2 separate regions of the Homo sapiens genome follow, and region 2 is linked to region 1. A link means that fine-mapping ties the variant in region 1 to the expression of a gene that starts in the linked region. Tissue or cell type: tibial nerve. Region 1 holds a variant in brackets; the other region holds the start of a gene. All regions are shown on one strand. Distances are from middle to middle.

Region 1 (8,110 bases):
GTGACACACACCATACACACACACACGCCAAATGGCACTTTCAGAAATGAAAGAATTTCAAGAGGAGCCACAAAGAAAAAGAAAAAGACTGAAAAATATAAACAGAGACTCACTGAGCTGTAGGACAATATCAAACGGTATAACATATACGTTGCTGGAGTTCCAGAAGGAGAAAGATGAACAGAAAAAATATTGAATTTATAATGACAATTTTAAAATCTAAATTTTTTATGACATCTATAAACTTACAGATGCAAGAAGGTCAATGAGCTCAAGGAAAGATAAACACATAGAAAACCATACCAAGAGAAATCACAATCAATTGCTAAAGAAATAAGTAATAAACGAAAAATATGCAAAGTTGCACAGAAAAACAGACATGATAAACCCAGAGAACAAAGAGAAAAATTATCTCAGATGTCTCAACAGAAACTATGCAAACCGGAAGACAGGGGACTGATATCTTTGAGGGATAAAGACGTAAAATGTCATGTAAATTTTGCTAACTGGAAAAAATATCTTTCAAACTTAGAGTTGAAATAAAGATTTTTTTTCAGACAAACAAAAGCTGAGAGAAGTCACTAATTGATCTTCACAAGAAGACATATTCATGGAAGTTCTTCATGAGGAAGAAAACTGATACCAGAGGGAGACTTGGAACACAAAAGAGTGAAAACACAGCAACCATAAGATTATAAGTAAATATGAAAAGAAGAAATCAACATGGAAATCTGAAAATATTTTGAAGCAAATGAAAATGAAAACACACCATGTCAATATTTGTGGGATGCTTCAGCAATTATTAGACAAAACCATACAGCTTTCGGTGCCTATACTTGAATAGAAGAAAGGATAAAAAATAATGACATTAAACCTTTCCACAAAGGAAATTCCAGGTCCAAATACCTTCACTGGTATACTAAATCAAATATTTAATGAAGAAATAATGCCAATTGTACACAAACAGTTACAGACAATAGAAAGGACGACAAGATTTTCAAACACCGTTTAAGGTCACCATTGCCCTGATGACAAAACCAAAGACATTAAAGAGAGAGAGAGAGAAACTATAAACCAATGTCTTGCATGAAAAGAACATCTTTTACAAAATATCAGCAAAACAAATTTGGCAATATATTTAAAGAACAATACAACATGAAGTGAAAATTATCCCAGGAAGGCAAGGTTGGTTTAATATTCAAAATTCATTCAATACAATCACCATATTAACATAGTAAAGAAGAAAAAACATAATTATCCTAATAAACTTAAGAAAAATATTTAACAAATTTCTTTACCCATTTATAACTTTAAAGAAATCTCTCAGCAAACTAGGAATGTAAAGAAACTTCTGGCCAGGCACAGTGGCTCATGCCTGTAATCCCAGCATTTTGGGAGGCCAAGAGGTGGGTGGATCACCTGAGGTCAGGAGTTCGAGATCAGCCTGGCCAACATGGTGAAACCCCATCTCTACTAAAAATACAAAAATTAGCTGGGCATATTGGTGGGCCCGTGTAATCCCAGCTGCTTGGGAGGCTGAGGCAGGAGAATTGTTTGACCCCGGGAGGTGGAGGTTGCAGTGAGCCAAGATCTCACCACTGCACTCCAGCCTGGGCGACAGAGCCAGACTCCATTTCGAAAAGAAAAGAAACTTCCTCGACTTGGTAGAAGACATTTATAACTAACATTATACATAATCGTGAAAGACTTAATATTTCTCACTAAATTCAGAATGAGGAAAGACATTTGCTCAGTCTATGTCTATTCAACATGATACTGGATATCCTAGCACTAGGTGTGTTTTGTTGTATTGTAATGAGGCGAGGAAAAGAAATACAAACATACAAATTAAAAAGGAAGAAGTAGAACAGATTTTATACACAGAGAACCTAAAATGGAAAATCCACCCACATGGAAAATTCTACTAGATCTTTAAAAACAACTAGTAGGTAGGACTACTAAGTGAATTTAGCCAATTCATAAAATTCAACTATATTTCTATATACTAGCCACAAAAAAACTTGGAAAATAAATTTGTAAAGAATTCCATTTATAATAGTTCAAAAGTATAACATACATAGGAATAAATTTAACAAAAACAGTGTAATTCCTGCGTACTGAAAATAAAAATTAGTGCTGAGAGAAATAAAAGAAGGCCTAAATAAATACATACACTCTGTCCATGAGTTGGGAGACTTAGTATTGTTAACATGTCAGTTCTCCCCAGATGATTTATAGATTTATTGTAATTGCAATCAAAATCTTAGCAGTCTGCTTTGTTGAAATGAACAACTGATTCTAAAATTTATTTGGAAATGCAAAGGACCCAAAATATCCAAAATAATTTTTAAAATAGGAACAAAGTTATATGATTTCAAAAGTTACTAAAAGCTACAACAATCAAGGCAGTGTGATTTTGGCAAAATGATTGACCAGTTAATGGGAAGGAATACAGGGTCAGAAATAGACCCACACATCCATAGTTAATTTTTTTACAAGGGTGCTATGTCAATTTAACAGAGAAAGAATGATCTTTTCAATAAATAGCACTCCAACAACTAACATCTCATACAGAAAAAAATAAGTAAAATTCAATCTTTCCCCACATAGTAAACAAAAATTACCTTAAAATAGATCATACACGTAAATGCAAAAACTTAAATATAAAGCTTTTAAAAGACAACATAAAGAAAATATTTGCAACATGAATGTAGGCAAAAATTTCTGAGATAGGACACAAAAACCTTAACCATTAAAAAACTTATAAAATTGACTTTATCTAAATTCAAAGCCTCTGCTTTTCAAAGCACTCTATTAATCAAAAATAAAAGGCAAATTCAACAACTGGGGAAATATTTATAAAAATGTATCTCACAAAATCCCTGTGTCTAGTATATACAAAAAACTCTTAGAACTCAATAATATGAAAATGACTATCTTAGTCCATTTTCTGTTGCTATAATTGAATATCTGAGACTGGGTAACTTAAAACAAAAATAAATGTATTTCTTTCTCTTCTGGTGCAAGAATAGGAAAAATCTTGGATGAAACTAGTCAAAGCACTGACATGCCATGACTGCACTGCAAACTTGATGGATAACTCACCTCTTTCAATCTGTTTCTTCACTTTGAAATCTCCTTCTCAACAGGGAGCACTCCTATTAGCTCCAACGTAGCTTCATGGGCAACATGATCCCACCACTCTAGATCCCCAAAGGACCTGAGAATGTGATTATAAGTTGTTTCTCTAAAATGGGAGGCAACTTTACCCCAGCCACCATGTCTCTCTCCTTCATCAAAATAGTGCTCAGCTACACGTGTTTATAAGAAGCCAGTCTAAGCAGAACCCATTTCCAGGGACCATCTGTACTTCCTAGCAATTGAACCCACAACCATGCCTTTGGAGATGACCAGCAGGACGGGGTAAGAGGTCTGCATCTGGCTTTCTGCTCCACACACATGCTTTTGTCTGGACTCCAAAGCCTGACAGCTGAAACTTCTGGAATGCCCTAGGCACTGCTGAATCAGATGTTTTTCAGCTTCAGTGATTCACAACTTCCAACTTGCAGAACATTCTCAAGCTAGCTATTTTTTGGAGTCCCTTTTCTCCAGCTGCCTCCAAAATGAACTGTCCCCAACCCTGAATTTCACTGACAGTGAGGTGTTTCTCTGGAAGTCTGGTTGGGGGCCATGCCAGCGTCATCGCCCTGTACTGGGCTTTGAAGACATGATGACCCACAGATTTTTATGTGATGAAGCTGCTGTTGCAGTGCCTGACCCCAGGCAGGTCCATGCAACACAGCCTGGCATCCTGTGTTTCCATATGGCACCAACCAGGTTGCTTTGAGCTCTCAGTCCTCTAGAAGCAGGGTCCCCTGAGGCACCACAACACAGAAGAGACCACATTGAGCCCTGTTGGAATATGTGTATGCACAGCTTTGGACAGCCACTGGAGGCCTGCTGTCTCCTTTACTGAATTCTGAGCCATTGCAGGTGCTCAGGATGGAGTCACCTCCATCCCATCCCACAGTAGAGTAGT[G/T]AAGAAACATGAATCATTCTATTAATTCCATCTGCTGAGACTGGAGCTTCTAGAATTTCACATCAGTGGGGTATTGGGGACAGTTGCTCTCTTCTCCATGTTTGTTTGGAGAATGCATTGATTTGGGCAACTGTCTTTGTTCCTGATATCTGCTCAGCTCCTGCAGGAAAATGCTGTTTATATCAACAGAGATGGCAACAGGCTGGGCTTACTGTCGAGGAGACTGAGTTGCAGAATCATCATCCCTGATTCCCAACAGAGCAACTAAGAGCTTGGACTTGAAAGTCAGTCACCCAGGCCCATATTTGAATCCAGATGCACATTTAACAGTTGGTTGACTTGGGCAAGTTACTGCACTTTTCCAAAAGTGTTTCCTCATCTGTAAAAATGGAGATAAAGGAACATGAGGAACATTCAAAGAGATAATATATGCAAAGGGTAGGCATACGGACTGCTGCCGGGTAAGCACTTGGTTAATACTAACAATAATTATTTTTCTTAACGGTGAGAGTTCCCCCGGGAAGCAAAAATAAGCCGTGGCAGAAACATTGCTAAGTGTTCGTCTGATTCCATTTTACTTTTCACTTTTTAAGTACTATAGACTTGAGGACTGTCTATGATTAGGTCGAGGTCAGATGGCTGAGTTCTGACCAATGGGAGGTGGGCACAAATGATGCACACCACATCTAGGCCTCATCTTTAAAAGGTTCTGACTTCTGCTCTTTCCTTCATTTGCACAGCTAGCAATGAAGAACCTGGAGATGTCAGAACCACAGGATAGAAGAAGCTCAGATGTTTGAGCACCTGCTTGAAGGTGACATGAAAAGAGAACAGCCCTGTACTGGACTTAGTGGTAGTGAGAAATTGTTGTTTATTATATTGAGCCATTGACATTTCAGGGTTTGTCTGCTACTTCAGCATAACATAGTATGTCCAGACTAATTCACAAACAAACACTAGTACAGGGAGTGGATGGGGAACCAGCTGGTCGAGGTACAATGGATATTCCCAGTCAGGTAGAGAAGGGCTGTGTAAATTTTTCATCAGGATGAAAATAACTCATGATTTTACAACAAAGTTGATTGCAAATTTCCCAGGCAACCCCCTACTGGAACCAGACAGTTGTGCCAGGAGGAGACAAGGCTTGTGACGTGAAAACCCCTTTGTCTGCACTTTCTGGTCTTCATATAGCAACGCTGCTGTTCCACTTCCATACCCCAAACTTTGCATGATTCTGTAGATTAAAAACATCCTCTCCATAAATTTCAATAAATTGGCAGTGAATTTCTGCAGCGGAAACAATTCTCATTTAAAACTACACATCTAGCCATGTATATTTGTCTGGGGACCACCTGTTGAAGGAAGCAGCCATCTGTACACAAAGTCACAAACGATCACATTCAGTCCATATTAGAACGTGGCCACACATGTTTAACAAAACATCACGTTCCCTGGATCATGGCTGTCCTATGCCAATGGAACCAGAAACTAATCCTGTAAAGCTCTAATGTGAAGACCCCAGGGCCCTTGCAGATACTGTTCTTTCTGCCCAGAATGCTCACTTTACATATGACTAGTCTTCATCTTCAGATCTCTGCCCAAAAGTCACCTCTTCAGAGATGCCTTCCCTGAATGCTCTTTCTGCAGGAGGTAGCTCCCACCCTTACTCCTCTATCTCTGTACCATATCCATTTCTTCCATAGAACTTACTATATGTAATTGTGGGGGGTGTGTATGTAACTTCTTTCACTAGACCCAAGTAACTGGGAAACTCCCCAACCTCTAGAATTCCAGGTGTATGAGCTGATAAAGCCCTTGTAGTGTTTAAGCCAATTTCAGCTGAATTTTCTGATATTATAGCTGATTTTACATCTAAAATCTTCCTAACAAATATATCTTCTCTCTAATGTATTACTACTGTTGTCTTCCCTGAGATTATCTGTATAAATTAAAAATCCACTATGTGCCAGGCACCACGTTAGGAACTTTATTTCATTTAATCTTCACAATAACTCTGAAAATTAGCGATTATTTAATGCTATTATATGGGTGAGGAAATTGAGGCCCAAAAAGTGTAACTAACATCGTTGGCTCTGCATTCCTTCCTTTGGGGAGCTGTTCTCCCACATTCTGTGTGATTCCGTGTCATTTAAATATACCACAAGGTGCGTACATGATCCAGGCTGGCCAATCAGAGCACTTCTCCACCCAGACTCTGTGATGGGCCAGGAGGAGACACATGACCCAAACAAAGCCAATCACAGTCCTTCCTTGTTCCCTAAATGCTAGGACATTAAGAACCTCTCTGGTTTGAGGATCACACTCTAAAAAAGCGTCATAACCCTGCTTTGGCCAGGAGCTGTCTTGCTGCCATGTGGAGAGGGCCTGCCTAAGAATAAAGCCTCATCCAGGGAGAGTGAGTGAAAAAGAGGCCAATGAGATCCCTTGAACTCCTGGATCCAACTGTGCCTGAGACACACACTTGGGCTTCTCGGTTCCATGAAGCAGTAAATTAATCATTACTTAATATGGTCTGAGTGGATTTCTGCCATTTGCTACTGAATAAAGATGGAGTGGGCATTACGTAGAAGTTAAATACATGTTAGTTCTCTCAACTTTCCTCCTTAAAGTGACCACTGCCCATTAACCCCACAACAGTTGTCAACATGTCAACTGCTGCCACTACAGTCACCCCTATTTTTTCACTACCCTTACTATGTCACATTTGGTCCAGCCTCTAGGCCATGCACAGGCTATTCTTTCTGCCTGGATACAGAATTATGTATTTTCCAAGGGTCACACTTCTAAGTAAACGTACTCCACAAATGACCTACAGCCCCTCTAACTGCAACTTACTGCCCATTTGCTAGTGGTGGCAGGGGTTGAAGCAAGAATTAAAAGCCCACAGGCCTTTAAATGTCCTATTTTAAGTCAGTGACTATTGCCCTGCAAAGAAAGGACTATTGTTTCTCATTCATATTGAGTTTTATACTCAAGGTGACTTCATAGAATTTCTCTCATTCCTTCTTTTTCGTAGCCCTGTTAGAGTTGGATAAGAGAGCAATTAATATACCCATTAGACAGCTGAGAAAGCTGAGTTCCAAAAAGGTGTAGCAACTTAATTGCAATTATCAAGTCCAGACTGAACTTGGAATTCTTCCAACCTCAGCCCAACCTGAGAGGCACCAACGTGTTCTAATTTGGCAAGCCACAATTATAAGCATCCATTCCCCAACCTCCTACCACACCCAGCACCTGGTCAATTTGGACAACTAAGCCCTATCAGGTTAGGTTGCCAGATAGTATACAGTATGCTCAGTTAAATTTGAATTTCTTTTTTTTTTTTTTTTAGTATAAGCATGACCCAAATATTGTCTGGAACACACTTATATTGAAAAATTATTCATAGTATATGTGAAGTTCAAATGTAACTAGGCATTCTGTAGTTTTATTTGCTAAATGTGACAATGCTACATCAGATGTTCTTCCAGTAAACTAGAAAAGGGGTGCAAGTTGTAATTTCTTTGGAAAGTCAGACTTTTCTGGCATGGATCCTAAAACACTACTATTCTGTGCACAGCATCACTCTCTAATGTTTGATACTAGGGTAGGGTTTGATGTCACCTGATATTATGGCCAGGATCCAGGAACTCTTCAATCTTGCTCTATGATGCACCTCTCCTTCCAAGAGCTTTCTGGAGGGTCTATTTACACAAGAAACAGTGGCAAAATGGGACTCAAGATACTGTCATTCTAGGCAGAGCCGTGAGTGGCCTTCCCCATTAGGAAATCGTGACCCACTGATCTTGGACTCTGATTAATCCCAATCAGATTAGCAACTTCCTGCCCTTGGGATAGAGGGGAGTGCCTAGGGAAAGGGCAGGCACAGGAAACTGAAATGTGGAGAAAGAGCGTGGCTGAGTGTTAGCCTTTGATGACGTCTCCAGTTCAGAACTAAGGAACCTGGTGAGTAGTCTCTTTTGGAAACCAAGACTGAGAACATGTAAATTTGGAAGCTACGGGATAAGCCAAGGTGGGTTCCACAATCAGAGAGAAGAAAGCCAGGCTATA
Region 2 (8,110 bases), 360 kb before region 1:
TGGAATTCATTCATAAATTTGGGTATATTAAAATTAGGAATTATGTTCATTAAAGGGCACTATTTGGCGTGTGAAAATGCAAACCACCTAGTTGGAGATGTTTTAAGTATATATAACCAACAATCAGACTCATGTTTAATCTTACAAATCACTTATTTAAAAAGATAGACATGCCAGTTTAAAACTGAGCAAAATAATTAAGCACTTTACATCTAATTAAACCATAAGCACACAATAAGCTCGAGGTCATCAGGGAAAGACAAATTGAAATCATAATCCAATACCATTACAAACTTATTAGACTGACAATTTCAAATGTTGGTGAAGATGTGGAGCCACTGGAACTCTGTTTGTAGGATGAATTTGAAGGGTGAAAACTGATATGACCACTTGAAAAAACTACATTTGTATATGCTATGACTCAGAAATTTCATTTCCAAGTACGTACTTAAGATAAATGCTTATATTTATTTGCCAGAAATACCTGCAGAAGATGTAATGCCATATGAAGTACACAGCATTCCCAGTGAAGAATTCTGTCCTAAATATTCAAGCTGAATCTACTGAAGCTTATAACCTTAATCCAGTTTACAGTGAATTCAGGGTGTCTTAGACCATTGTGTTGCTATAAAGGAATACCCGAGGCTGGGTAGTTTATAAAGAAAAGAGGTTTATTTGGCTCACAGTTCTGCAGGCTATATAAGAAGCATGGTGCCAGCAACTGATTCTGGTGAGGGCTTCAGGAATCTTCTAGTCATGGCAGAAGGTGCAGAGGGAGCAGGCATGTCACATAACAAGAGAGGGAGCCATGTGACAAGCTCCCTCTGCACCTTCTGCCAAGATTAGAAGAGGGAAGAGGTGACAGACTCTTTTTAACAATCAGATCTCATGAGAACTAATATAGTGAGAACTCACTCATTACTGCAATGACAGCACCAAGTTATACATAAGGGATCCACCTCCATGACACAAACACCTCTTACTAGGTTCCACCTCCAGTGTTGGGGATCAAATGTTGACATGAGATTTTGAAGGGACAGATATCCAAACTATATCACAGGGTAAAGAGAAACATGTACCATGAGAAAACAGTTCAATCCAGAATATTACAAAATGGTCTGAACTCTTCCAAAAGTCACTGTCAAAAAAAAAAATGGCGGGCCAAAAAAATATAACATCAAATGCAATGCATGAACCAAGACTGAATCTTGATTGAGAAAAAAATCACCTCTAAAAGACAGTCTTGTGACGGTTGGGGAAATTTGAATGCTCAATATCAGATGTTATTTTAAAGTTACCATTATTTTTCAGGGTGTGAAAATGATATAGAGGCGTGTTCTTATACTCAGGAGGTACCTGCTGACATATTTATGGGTGAAGTGTCATGATATCTGCAACTTATTTTCAAATATTTAGCAAAAAAACAATGTATAGATGGATGATAGATGAATGGATGTAGATGCAGCTCTAAAAATAGCATGAGAAATAAGGTAAATACGACAAAATGTTAACAGTTGTTTAATTTAGGCAGTGGGTATTTGGTGTTTATTTTGCCATTTTATCAACTTATCTGTATATTTAAAATTTTAATATATTCCTGAATTATGTATTTTAATAGGATTTTGTACTTAGCTTATTTAGAAGGTACAAATATGTTTTACTCTACTTTAAGAAAATAAACATTAGAAGTTCTAGAATATATATTATCGGTATAGGTTATGTTAGAAAGAGTACTGAAACTCCAATCAGAGAACTTAAAGTGGAAAAAAATTAAAAAACCCTTTGGCTCCACATTAGAGGTCTGGCTCATGAATATACATTTATATATTTCAGGTTAAAATAAAATACTTACTGTATACATACATCACCTTTTAATGATTCCCAGATTGAGCTACGTTTTTCCAATGAGCCAACCAGCTACTAGTGCCAGTTAACTCCAGATGAGAGGGATTCCTCTGTATACTTTGTGTATGGAAAGAATGTAGCATCCAGCTAATAACTGGTTCAGTGATTGTGATTGGAATAGCCATCTGTTAGTGTAGTTGGGTATTCCAAGAGATAACAGGATGAGTGAAGACTGTCCTGGCCTTCTAGGGAGCCTCATGCAATATGGTGGCGAGAAGCCCAGGTCTTGAAGCAGAGGGACATGTGGTTAATTCCTGGAGGTATAATCTTGGGAAAATCACTTAACCAACATGAGCCTCAGTTTTCTCATATGAAGGATGAGACCTACCTCGCAGAGTTTTGGTAGGGCTTAAATGTGACCATGACTCTATAGCAACTGTATAATGTGGGTGCACCAGCAACAATGAATTAATTGTTGGTGGTATCATGTATAGGAATGTCTAGTCAGAGGAAGAGAGTTCTAAGGCTGTAGTTGCTGCTGAAGACACATAGTAAATAGGGGTTCTGCTGTTTCAAAAAAAATTCTAAAAGGGAGAAATGGGCTAAATTTATCAAGCATGCTTAAAAACAACCTGACTCATAAATTGGCTAGACCAATTTTCTACAAAAGATTCCCAGGATCATAGGCATTGGTATCACCTGCTGCACTTTTTCAAGATGTAGACTCCTGAGCCAAGCCCTGTACCTACTGGGTCAGAAGCTCTCGACATGAGGCCTGAGAAGCTTTATTTTAACAGGTATGAAAGCCACTGAGTGTTGAGACTGTCTACCCTGTTCACTGCTGTATTCCCTGCACCTAGCAGAATGTCTGAGGAGCTCAGTAAATCCTGGGTGATTAAATGGACGAACAGATGAATCAATAACATGACTCTGACAAATAGGGCAGAGTAGGAGTTCTGATTTCTGCTCTTTCTTACATATGCCTTAGGCTGCAAGTTGCCTTCTCCTCTCTTCTTTTTCCTTTTAACGCTGTCCTTAGGGTCGTCATCACCTGATTTTACTGCAGAGACTTGGTGAGGCAGAAAAAGGTGAACCCCGGGCTTTTCCCTGCCTGAGAAGTCCCAACCTGTGAGCTAGATTTATATACAGCAGTGGATTGAGCAGTGCTTCTCAATCCTGGCTGCACTTTAGAATGACCTGAGGCTTGGCCCGCACCCTAGACAAATTAAATCAGAATAACTGGAATGGAGGTCCAGGTATTGAAATTTTTCAAAAGCTCCCAAGTGATTCTGTTTCATAGTGAAGTTGAGAACCACTGGCAAACCATAATATGGATACCTCTAAAAATCTTAGTGTTGAGTGCAAAAGGTGGTAAACGATTTATAGCACGTTACTACTTAAGGATATTAAACTTTAATATACACACAAAACCAAGTTCTGTGTTTTTTGGAGATAATCTAAGGACATATAAGAAATCCCAGGAAGGAAGACAGGAGAGGGAAATGGGAGGAAACAGGAGCGAGAATAGAGAATAAATGGGGAAATATAAAATAAAACAAGACAGCGAGATTACACAGACCTTAAAGACTAAAAAGCGTGGCTCCCAAACATCAAATCACCATAGTTAGTATGAACAGGGCAGTCATGTGTACTAGACACAGTGTAATTGGTTTACACACCTTATGTCTGTTAATCTTCATAACAACTCTGAGGTAGGTGTTACTATTTAGAGTCATTTTATAGAGGAGGAAACTAAGGCTTAACCAAGATCATACAACTAGTAAGTGACAGATTTGGGTATAAGCCCTGTCTACCTGGATGGAGTCCAGGCTCTGTTTGCTCCATTCATCACCTCTTTGAGTCCTCTCGAGCACCTGCTGGAAAGAAAATGTCCTCCTCCCCAAGCCCACGTCTCTGCTAGGCAGCTCAGGAACCACCAGCACATACTTCATCCCAGCCCTTGCCAAAGATGGGAATGAGAATGACCATCCAATGTTCTGTGCCCAATGCAGAAGAAAACCTACACATACAACCTTCCTGACCTGGAAACATCCAAAATCAGCCTCAGTTTCCTAATGAGCCTTTCCCTGCCTGAAAAGTCCCAACCCGTGAGCTAGATTTATATACAGCAGTGGATTGAGCAGTGCTTCCCAATCCTGGCTGAAGACGAGCAATGTTTGTTGGGTTCAAGGAATAGAAAAAAGCCTCGCATGGCTGGAATAGAAGAGGAAGATGGTGGGTGCTGCAGCAGAGAAGGCAGGGGCTCAGAGCTCTTCACTTCCCACCAGACATTCCTTTTCCCTTGGGGATGGACTGAGCATGTGGAAGATTTTCCATGCAACTTCATATCCACTGTTCACAACACCTGCCTCTGAGGACGTGATCTTCCTACCAATCTCAGGACCTTTCAAAATTAATTATAATAAAAATGTATTTATTGAGGCAGGCATAAATATTAGTCTCCATTTTCTTCAGAGAAAACAGAAGCATACAGCGGTAGCTTGAACAAAATTTCCCAACCAGAAAGGGATGAGGGAGGAGAGACCGGAAGTACAAGCTCCTCTTATCTGAGTTGCCGCCGTCTAGAGGTGAGCTGATTTTCTGACAGCCCCTTCTCCTCTCCTCACTGGATATCCAGTTTCCAGGTAGGTCCTTCCAGGTAGGCGCCCCCCTGACCTCAATGCGTGCTCCAGCTCTGGGGTGCATTCACAGGGGTAGGACATAGAAGGTAAACTCTGACCAGCTGCATGTGCAGCTACCTCTGCAGAAAAAATCAAGAGGCGCTGGAAGCCCTTCTCCCTTTGCTTAACAACATCTCCCCTGCTGCCCCACAGCAGTATCTGAAGTTCCCCTGTTGGCTTATGGAAATAAAGGCTTTTGTTAAAATATAAATCTGTAATCTGACGGGATGTGAAAAGATTAAGGGACGGGCTGCCCAAACTTTACTGTGCTTGACACTCAACTTATAAGTGTATTGGAAATGCAGATCTTAGGTTCTTATACCACAGATTCTGATTCAACAGGCACCAAATGGGGCCCAGGTAGCTGCAATTCCAACAAACACTTCAGGTGTTTCTGATGCTCGTGTTCTCTGAATCTCGTTTTGAGAAACACTGTGTGACTATGAACTCTTCAATTAGTTAATGAGACTTGGCCCAGAGGTCAATTTTGTCTATAATGAAGCAGAGAGGAGAAAGACACAGCTGCTCCCCCTCTGACTTGGTCTTTCTCTGTCCCGTTCAAAGCTGTGTTCATAGCTCAGGGCTTTAAGAGAGAGTGTTCAGAGCCCTAACTCAGAAGGACCGCCTGGAGACCTGCCAGGGTTTTGCCTAGACACACGTCACACCTTTACAGGGGTGGCGAAGGCTTGTGCTATCTCAAGACCTCACGCAGTACTTCTCAGTTTAATGGGCCCACTCAAGAGGTAAACGTGGAAAAAGAAAAGTTATATGCACACACACCCACACCCACACCCACACCCACACACACACACACACAGAGCAATAAAACAGGAGCAATTTATTCATAAGATTCTAAGTCATGAATTGTCTCTACTTACAAAATATTAGCCTATAAATTATGATTCTGCCAAGCTTCATTTTGAACAAACCCACAATCTCAGAAACATCAGCAGTTCAACTGCAGAGAGAGATGATGAGGTGGCTTGAGAAGAGTGACAGAAATGTCTCTGGATGGGATTCTGGACCTTCTGGGAGGAGGCTTCTTTGAAGGCCACCTGGCGATCGCGTGGTTTCTGATTCTCCCCGTAGTGATCGTGCCTTCCCAGGTACTGAATGGATCTCTTTGAGCTCTTTGCGTGGCCGATGTGTGAACTTTTGGCATGGCCAGTGTGTTCAGTGGGAGTGCTGGGGTTTACAATTGGAGGAAGGATACCGACTCCCTTTATGGCTGGAGCTTCTTGGGATTCCTAAGTGTCACCTTGGTCCACAAGTAGCTGTTAAAAATTAGAAAAAAGTCAGCTGTTTGTCTTCTCATTCTTCTACAGGGCTCCCAGAGATTAAGACAGCCGAGCCTTCCTCTCCCTGAAGGGCCCATCTCTTTCTGAAATTTAAATAATTTGGGCATTTAAAAAAATGTACAATTAAATTATTATTGACTACAGTCCTCGTTTTGTGCTATCAAATACTAGGCGTTATTCATCCGGAAAAGTGATACTTTGAATTGTGGTGATACAGTGTTTCAACAGATCCTTATATCCTTCCAAAGTCTTGAATGCTATTACAACAGGGCGTCACATGAGGGCGCTCTAGAGAATCCGCAAGAGCAAATTCCGTAGTAAATGGGGAGGAGGGAGTTGTTATTAATAGATTTTACTTTTTAGTTTGAGTTTCCTTAGTCTAGAAGGACTCACAGAATTCCCAACTGTGCTTGCATGCCTGCTGTGCCCAGCGTGTGAGTGTGAGTGTATGTGTGTGTGTATGTGTGTGTGTGATGCACGCATGGAGGGGTTAGGGAGGATGCAGGAATAGAAGTTGATGAGGGACAAAGGGGAGGGAAAATTAAAATGATGAGCTTCAGAAGTCACCTTCTTTACAATTTGAGAGGCAATGTTCTGCTCCTATCTCTTGAAATGTCCTCTATCTCTTCCTTTCAAGGGAAAAAACACCAGTTCCCACCCAAGAGTTCTCCAGGACAAGGGAGGCCCTGGAGAAATGCAGTCAGAGGCAAATGGGAACAGATAGCTGCTTGTCAGCGCAGGTGCATCTCTTCCAGTCCACTTTGGCTGAGACTAACCTGACCTTGCTGAGCCCTGGCCTTGCCGTCAGCTTGCGCTGACAACAGGAGACCAGGCCACACTCTCCTAGCAGCTGCCCAGGCGAGGCTCATGCCCCAGAAAAAGCAGCTCCAGTTACACATTAGTCACAGAAATAACAATGATCAAAGGGAGCCAAAGGCATGAAATGGCTTCATTTTCCCAATTTAATTATGGGACTGGAGGATCCATTTCAATCTGGAAGGAGCCTGATTTCAACTTGTTATAAAATGGTTGGATAAAGTGCTGTATATTATTTTTTGTTTCTACCCTCATCCCTCCTCCCCATCTGCAATACAAGTTTTCATAGGCTTTTGAGTCCTTTTCAGCCCCTCCCTGTAGACGCACGATAAGAAACATAAATATGCCCCTTTCTTACTTGAGTCCTACTCGTGATGCTGATGCGCCCAATTAGAGTCTGTAGTTAAGGCCCCTGGGATTGTTCTGGGCCCTGGAAAAGAATGGCAGCAGGTGAGTGATGAGAGGTCCTCCCCCTCAGGGCAAGTGCAATGGCCTCATTGAGAAAGTATTCAGCCATCTGTAAAAAGGGGCCTATGGCAGTGGGGTCAGATGACAATGCCCCACATGCTTTAGTGGTTAAGATGCTTCAGTGCTCAGATGCTTTAGTGGCTACAAGTTTTTTACTGGGCTGAGAAAGATGTGGATCAAAGCTGTGTTCCAGGTACATGTGATGGGCTTTCTATCCCCTGCCACACACACCCACACACATGCACACACGTGCACACACACATATACACGTGGACCCTCTTGCCCCAAAGCCAGGCCTTGAGCTTTGAAAGGCTAGAGGCAAGAATTAGACCGGGGATGTGTATTTCTGTCCTTAGAAGTTGGCTGGCTGTTTTATACTTACTAAATGACAAAGTGTGATGAAATTGTTGCCTAGTAAGGACAAAGCCACAAGGTTTTTTTTTGTTTTGTTTTGTTTTGCAGAGGGGAGGGGAAGGGCAATGATGAGACAATTCTTTTTGGGTCAACCATCGTACATAGCACATAGAAGATTTGACTGGGACCACATAGTGAATGGCGTCCTTTAGAGCTTACATGGGCGCACAGAATCAGGCAGGGGCTAGAAGTCAGGGGTGCAGTTTCTAGACCAGCTCTGCCGCTGACTTGCCCTGTAAATTTGGGAGGGACTCCTCTCCACTCCGGGGTTCATGTTCTTCCTCTGGACTGGGCGATTTCTCTCTCTGCACCTTTTCGCTCCAAGGATCTACTAGTCCATGTCTCTCTGATGCTTAAACATCTGTGTGCAGCATTTTTAGGAGGCCTCTTTCCTCTGCAAAATAAGAGGCCTCTGCTCTTACATTACTTTGGGATATGTTTGGAATTTTACTTATTCTCCACAAGATTTAACTGTAGTACAAGGTGAGTCTTTTTCCTACTTCCCGGGAATTAACCTATGGCATAAATTACAGGCAGGAAATAGATGGAGCAGATAAACATGGAAGGCTTGCTTTCTTTTCCTCTTCG

The links. PIP is the estimated chance that this variant, and not a neighbour inherited with it, causes the effect.
Region 2: it holds the start of CASC18, and the variant in region 1 is fine-mapped to the expression of CASC18 in tibial nerve (GTEx, PIP 0.98).

The regions. Positions count from the first base shown.
Region 1 is chr12:106,054,997-106,063,106 of GRCh38, forward strand. No RefSeq gene overlaps it. Among named protein-coding and RNA genes, the nearest start is that of NUAK1, 80 kb to the right of the region's middle. The variant G/T (reference allele first, on the strand shown) is at 4,040.
Region 2 is chr12:105,699,767-105,707,876 of GRCh38, forward strand. It overlaps CASC18 (cancer susceptibility 18), which reads left to right and starts at 4,437. Exons shown (of 5, transcript NR_110109.1): 1 at 4,437-4,490. LOC105369959 (a long non-coding RNA gene) reads right to left here. Exons shown (of 3, transcript XR_945309.3): 2 at 6,999-7,070; 3 at 5,350-5,800.